Homo sapiens: one gene and its partner. The protein of the gene in region 1 interacts with the protein of each later gene in a pairwise test. Each region holds a gene or a part of one and is shown in the gene's direction. Other genes may lie near its edges.

Region 1 (3,823 bases):
GATAGGATACTTAACGGACTTTCAAGCTCTATTGGAATAGGATTTGATGATCTGAGGTTAAAAATAATAAGAGCTTCATTTCCTGATCTCAAAGAAGACATGAAGACTCTTGATCTTAGCATCCTGTTTCTATATTGCATAACTGGGGGTAAACTTACATCTTGAAATTTGAAACTCAAATTTCCTTTGCTACAAAGGAAGTCTATTTCACAATCATTCATAAACTCTGCCATTATCTTTGTCGTTTGTCGTTTTTGTCCTTTGTTAGAGACACAATACATTTCGTGTGCTTTAGTTGAGATGACTGCAATATGGAGCAGACCTATCCAAGACTCAGGGGTGAGGCTGAGATGTACTACTAGGAAAGCAGAGAAGTGTCTGGTTTACTGCTATATTCCCATTGCCTTACACAGTGCCTGGCTAGTGAATACTCAATATATATTTGTGGAATGGAATGAATAAGTAAAAGGTCTCACTCACTGAGTATCTATCTTTTAAAACTCACTCACAGGAATAAATGAACAGAAAGAGGTAAAGTGGAGGGTGATTTCTCATTCTTTTTCTCTTGAGCTCCACTCCAAAGTGACTTGTCTCAACCCAAACCACTATTCAGAGGAGAGGAGACACAGTCTGTAGATTCAGTACTCTGTGTGCTATTCTCAACCAGGTCTGCCTGGATTCTTAATTGCTTGCAGGTCAACGTTTCCGCAGCAGTCAATCTCTTCATTGAAAGTGGAAGTCAGGGCCGGGCGCGGTGGCTCACGCCTGTAATCCCAGCACTTTGGGAGGCCAAGGCGGGCGGATCACCAGGGCAAGAGATCGAGACCATCCTGGCTAACACGGTGAAACCCCGTCTCTACTAAAAATACAAAAAATTAGCCGGGCAGGGTGGTGGGCGCCTGTAGTCCCAGCTACTCGGGAGGCTGAGGCAGGAGAATGGCGTGAACCAGGGAGGCAGAGCTTGCAGTGAGCTGAGATCGTGCCACTGCACTCCAGCCTGGGAAACAGAGCGAAACTCCGTCTCAAAAAAAAAAAAAAAAAGTGGAAGTCAGTATTTTTACTAATAGTTACTAATAGTAATGAAGCCTGTTTTGTTACTAGTTGTAATGTTACTAATAATTAGTAATATTATTAGTAAAGTAGAAGTCTGTTTCATCAACTTCAGTTATTCAGTTATTCCTCCAACTCCAAACTTTGTCCGTGTTCTTTGGGAAATTCCTAGCTCTTTTTCTATCTTGATCTGTGGGCAAAACTGTCTACAGAAGGGTTAGACTTCAGAGCAACACTAATATAAGAGCATCCAATATAACCCAACTGGGTTTTCTTTGTACAGAACCCTCTAAATTAGGACCAGACTTCCAGTATAACAAATTGCTCTTTGAAAGACATGGCTAGGCATGACTAAATTATTTATTCTTATTAGAATAATAAATAGCATAAATTGTGCTGGAAGATGTAGCAAGAATGAGATTCCTGGGTGCTGAGGGGGCACTGGGGAGCTTTAGTGGGTTGCCTCAAGCAAGAATGAGATTCCTGGGTGCTGAGGGGTCACTGGGGAGCTTTAGTGGGTTGCCTGAAGACCCACCCACCTCACCACCACTTTGGCTTTAGTCATAGCGTTTATCCTTTCAACTGCTTTACATTTGGGGATCTCATGTTTAGATAATTTGGGAAAAAACGGATGCAAATAAACATTGAAAACTACTATCATAGAGGGAAGACCATAGATTTTGCTCATAAAGAGACCTCTTCAATATTCCACTTTCTAGTTATAACTTGATAATTACTTTTTAAAAACCAGCTTAGAGGCTGTGTTTCCTCATTTGTAAAACGGTGGTGTCTATCACATCAGGTTGGTGTGAGAAGGGGGCAAAGACTCCTCCACACAAGATATAAGCCATCCCTTTCCTCTCTTACGTTTATGGCTGAAATAGCTAATTTTTCCTGAGAATGGAAGTAGCCCGAGAATCTTTCCAGCACTATTCTCCAAGACAACAGAAATAGCACATGAATTGAAACACATTTACTCTCCCTTTCTTACAGTGGCAAAACCTTAAACCAGAAGGCGAAGTATGGAACAAGTGTTTAAATTGAATGACTCTTAGAAGTGTAGAAAATGGTTGTGTCATGTGACCACAAGCAGTTTAGCTTAAGGTAGCAGTTAATAAAAATCATTTCAATAGGAATTTATTAATAAAATAATGGCTAATAATAACTAACTGTATTGAGTGCCTACTATGTGTCAGGCAATGTGCTGTTCACCTCCCATGAATTAGTTCATTGAATCCTCTCAACAATCCTTTGAATGAAAGAGAGATCTAATCACAGAATTGCAGACTCTGAGGATCCTATTTTAGAATGGCCTTGTTGTATTTGTGATTATTTTTAGAAATAAAAATGTAGCTTTGGTATTTATATATTAAGTTTATTTTAGGAAATTTGTTCTGACAAGGGGATAAATTATGAAGAAACAGTAGACTCTTGGTATTAGTGAATTTAACATTTGATATTTTAGCCTTTGAAAGTAATATTTGTAAGTGATGTTGTAGGCCCATTATGTAAAATAATTTTTAATTGTGTTGAGTTACTATTTTGAATTTTGTGTGCTCAGAGCCTGGTGTCTGAAGTGCCACACATAGACAAGGAGCTCAGAAAGCTGCATAGCACTAACATTTCATTCCAGCTTTGTTGTTCTTTGCTTGTAGTCACAAATATATTTCATGAGAAAACCATATGGCTATTCAAGAATATGGTCATTCACAAGTGTCTTGGGTCATAGCAGGAGTTGATATTCACCTAGTGTGCACTGGTACAGCAGTTGTGGTTATTGAAAATATTGAAATATGTTTGTACTCATTAAGATATTGAAATAATTGGTCCAGGTATGGTGGCTTATGCCTGTAATCCCAGCACTTTGGGAGGCCGAGGTGGGTGGATCACTTGAGTTAGGAGTTTGTGACCAGCCTGACCAACATGGTGAAACCCCATCTCTACTAAAAATACAAAAATTAGCCAGGCGTGGTGACATGCACCTGTAATCCCAGCTTCTTGGGAGGCTGAGGCAGGAGAATCACTTGAACCTGGGAGGAGGAGGTTGCAGTGAGCTGCTGAGGTCGCACCACTGCACTCCAGCCTGGGTAACAGAGTGAGACTCCGTCTCAAAAAAAAAAAAAGAGATGTTGAAATAATTTATACGGTTGGTAAATAGCCATTGCCCAAGATGGATTAATATCTCTTTTCTTCTATGTCAACTCTAACCTATAAATTTTGCCAGATACAATGCAGGATGCCCACTTACATTTAAATATCAGATAAATTATAAATAATTTTCTAGCTTAAGTATGTCTCATACAATATTTAGTACATACTTAAACAAAAATTATTTGTGGTCTATCTGAAATTCAAATTTAACTGAGCGTCCTGTATTTTTATTTGCAAAATCTGACAACTCTACTTTACTAGGAACTCAGATCTATTTACAATCTAGCAGTAATGAGTAAAGGGCTGGACTCAGGGTCCCTGCAGGTCCTTACTGTAGGACCTTGGCCAGCCCAGCATTTATTCTGACTTGATGCACTTGTTGTACAAGTCATTAAATATTTTTAGCATATTTAATGTCATAGCAATAGTGAATGACAAGGATCTATCTACATTATATTCTTTCTAGTATTTGATAAGAACTCCACTACTTAGGAATTTTCTCATATTTAGCTTTTAAAGTACACTATTTTTCCATCATTGGGTTTGTTTTTACTCAAAGTTTTTCTTTTTTCTATTTTAATATTACACAAAATTTAAGTGCAGTGCATCCTTTTTTTAAGTC
Region 2 (3,823 bases), on another chromosome or scaffold:
GCTTGTAAGAAAATAAGTTTTTTTTTTCTTTAAGCAGAAAGGATTTAATCCTTTGTAGGGTTTATTTTCAAGAGTTAGTTACGTCTTTTTTACCAAAATGCTTGCAATGGCTATGTTTTAAATGATAGGATTTTTTTCTTTTTCTAGACTTTAATGAATATGTATTACTTTTATAATAAATGAAATTAACTTCAAAATAATTTTTTTGGCCTTCCGTTATAGAAGATTTTAATGAAAACTGTATTGAGACACTTTACCCAAGTTATAGGAAAGGCTAGCCAGTGACTCACAGGAGTGTTCCAGAATGATGAAGAAAGACTTTTCTAGAAAGAAGGTGAATGAATTTGCTCAAGGGGAGAGGGAAGTCACTGTAGCTAGAAGGATAATTACCAGCCAACGGTGTTTAGTCAGCAGACTTTGATGAATTTAGATGAGAAAGTAGATGAGGTATGTGAATGTGATATACCCCTATTTTTTCTTACTTTATTAGCAATCTAAAGACCTAAGTCTTAGTCTAATTTCTGTTGTTTAGATGAAAACCAATAGCTTTTATGTTAAGCAACAGCAAGCCTCTTTGTCAAGAATCTGTTTAGAAAATGTCAGCAGAGACAGGATGTGGTGGCTCATGCCTGTAATTCCAGCACTTTGGGAGGCTGAGGCGGGAGGACTGCTTGAGCCTAGGAGTTTGATAGAAGCTAGGGCCACATAACAAGACTCCGTCTCTACAAAAAATAAAAAATAAAAAGAATTAGCTGGGCGCAGTAGAACACCTGCAGTCCAAGCTACTTGGAGAGCTAAGGTGAGAGGATCACTTGAGCCTGGAGGTCAAAGCTGCAGTTAGCTATGATTGCACCATGCACTCTAGCCTGGTTGACAGAGTGAGATCCTGTTTCAAAAAAAAAGGAAAGGAAAATGTTAGCAGAGAAAAAAATGTGTGTGAATATTTCCCGTTACCTTACAGAGTGTGTCCTCTCATAAAATAAGCTGAGTGTAGTTGGGGTAGAAATTACTGGAAATGATCCAACTCAAGGATTCCGGGTTGTCTAAAACTAGAAAATGGTACTTTTTTTGGATTTATGACGAGAAATACTGTGGGTTTAAGAGGCAACTGGAATGTGCCAGTTAACTCTTCATAGACGCATTGTTTCCTGTGAAGCAGATGAAAAACTAGAGAGATTAGCAGAACCTAATAAAAATAAGCTTGTGGCTGAGTGCAGTGGTTCACGCCTATAATCCCAGCACTTTGGGAGGCCAAGGCAGGTGGATAACCTGAGGTCAGGAGTTCAAGACCAGCCTGGACAACATGGTGAAACCCCATCTCTACTAAAAATACACAAATTAGCCAGGCATGGTGGCACACACCTGTAACCCCAGCTACTTGGGAGGCTGAGGCATGAGAATCACTTGAACCCAGGAGGTGGAGGTTGTAGTGAGCCAAGATTGTGCCACTGTACTCCAACCTGGGGTACAGAGCAAGACTCCATCTTAAAAACAAAACAAAACAAAAAAAACACTTGTGTCTGGATGGTGGGGTACAGTAAGTATTAAGTTTATCTTTGAGGCAATAAAAGAAAGAAATAAGTGGTTTTCTTACATACTGTGCAACCAGATCTGATGCTTCACTTTTTCCATTTCCTCCCTCAGAAGACAAAACTGCTAAGGCCAAGGTCCAACAGACTCCTGATGGATCCCAGCAGAGTCCAGATGGCACACAGCTTCCGTCTGGACACCCCTTGCCTGCCACAAGCCAGGGCACTGCAAGCAAATGCCCTTTCCTGGCAGCACAGATGAATCAGAGAGGCAGCAGTGTCTTCTGCAAAGCCAGTCTTGAGCTTCAGGAGGATGTGCAGGAAATGAATGCCGTGAGGAAAGGTAAGAGATGAGTTGTGAACCATTAGTGGTAGTGAAGGGGTCCTTTTAGTTCTTTTGGGCCCTCAGATTTGTGTATGAGCTATTATTAGGGCAGTATTTATGGAAACACCTTCCTCTTTTAGGGCCAGAGAGGAAGGTCTTCAAGATAGACAGTCAAGGGACTGTATTGCGAAAGTGGGACTTTCTTTCTGGTGCGTGTGTGGGATGTGACCAGCTTTTATAGTTACTACTTAATTTCTGAAAATAACCTGCAGTCTTGAGCTGCCACCAGCTGCCTTTTGTCCCTTTGGTCTTTCCCATCATCTGCTAGGATAAAGATAGAAAATAATGGTTTTACTGCAGTAAGTGCTGGTCCTAGGGCTCCCAAGCCGTGTGTCTTACTGATGGTCATTGAATTGCAACCTTAACTCCACAATATATAGGTGTGGCTATATCTGCAGAGAACTCAAGGCTCCCCAAAAGCCTAACCAGCAGAAATTATGCATATGGCCAAAATTGTTTTCTATGAAGAAAATTGAGATTAGGACCAGGCCCAGTGGCTCACACCTATAATCCCAGCACTTTGGGAGGCCGAGGCAGGTGGATCACTTGAGGCCAGGAGTTTAAGACCAGCCAGGCCAACATGGGGAAACCCCATCCCTACCAAAAATACAAAGATTAGCTGGGCATGATGGCGCATGCCTATAGTCCCATCTTCTCAGGAGGTTGAGGAGGGAGGATCGCTTGAACCCAGGAGGCAGAGGTTGCAATGAGTCGAGATCGTGCCACTGCTCTCCAGCCTGGGTGACAGAATGGGACTCTGTCTCAAAAAAAAAAAAACAGAAAATTGAGATTAGGATTGGGGTGGGGATGTAGTGGAGTGAATAAGACATGCCAACCAGCAAGAAAGCTTTGGACTTTATTGTTCATTAAAGCTGGCCAGTAGCTCTGAAAACAACACCAAGAGTCTGCCATTACAGTAACTAAAATAGAAGAGATGCTTTGTACACTCAGTTATAACTAACTTTGGTTATGCTTGGCCTTTTTTGTGAACTAGGCCATAAGCCATTTTTGACAATATGTTTGGAAGATATTGTGAACTCAGAATAGAAAGTTGGTCCCATTTGTTTCTTGTTACTTTTGTTCCAGAGGTTGCTGAAACCTCAGCAGGCCCCAGTGTGGTTAGTGTGAAAACCGATGGAGGGGATCCCAGTGGACTGCTGAAGAACTTCCAGGACATCATGCAAAAGCAAAGACCAGAAAGAGTGTCTCATCTTCTTCAAGATAACTTGCCAAAATGTAAGTCTCATTGTTATTTGCCTGATGTAGAAAAGAATTTATAATTCAAATGTACATTAGATTAAATATAAAATTGCATGGTGAGGCTGGGCACAGTAGCTCATACCTGTAATCCCAGCACTTTGGGAGGCTGAAGCGGGAGAAGATCACTTGAGGCCAGGAGTTTGAGGCCAGCCTTGGCAACATAGCAAGACACTATCTCTACCAAAACAGTTTTTTTAATTAGCCAGGCATGATGGCTTGCATCTATAGTCCCAGCTACTCAGGAGGCTAAGGTAGGAAGATTGCTTAAGCCCAAGACTTCAAGGTTCAGTGAGCTATGATCACGCTATTGCACTCCAGCCTGAATGACAGACAGAGACTCAGTTTCTAGGAAAAACAAAAAAATGTATGGTGAGTTGAGGCTTGAAAGCCATATCCCTTGCTTGCGTGAGCAGGTGCTTTTGGTTGTGGTGACTACAGGTGCTGTTGGTAGCCTGCCTTCTGTCCTTTAATACTTACCGTCTACACATGGCACTGAGCCAAACACGACATACAGTCTTATTTACTTACAAGATGAGGACATCAAATAACCTGCCCAGGATCTCCCTCAGTTGCCAAGCTGAGACTTGTTGTATTTCACCAAAATGCAGCTGTGTTTCACAACCACCATTCTGTACTGTCTTTTGTTCAA

The links.
Region 2: the proteins of GRXCR1 (region 1) and ALAS1 interact in binary tests that used the Homo sapiens proteins (3 or more experiments, as listed by UniProt).

What each region holds. Positions count from the first base shown.
Region 1 is NC_000004.12:43,024,952-43,028,774, forward strand, and holds part of GRXCR1 (glutaredoxin domain-containing cysteine-rich protein 1), read left to right. Parts: intron 1-3,823. UniProt on the Homo sapiens protein: May play a role in actin filament architecture in developing stereocilia of sensory cells.
Region 2 is NC_000003.12:52,200,863-52,204,685, forward strand, and holds part of ALAS1 (5-aminolevulinate synthase, non-specific, mitochondrial isoform 1 precursor), read left to right. Parts: intron 1-1,644; coding exon 1,645-1,872; intron 1,873-3,000; coding exon 3,001-3,150; intron 3,151-3,823.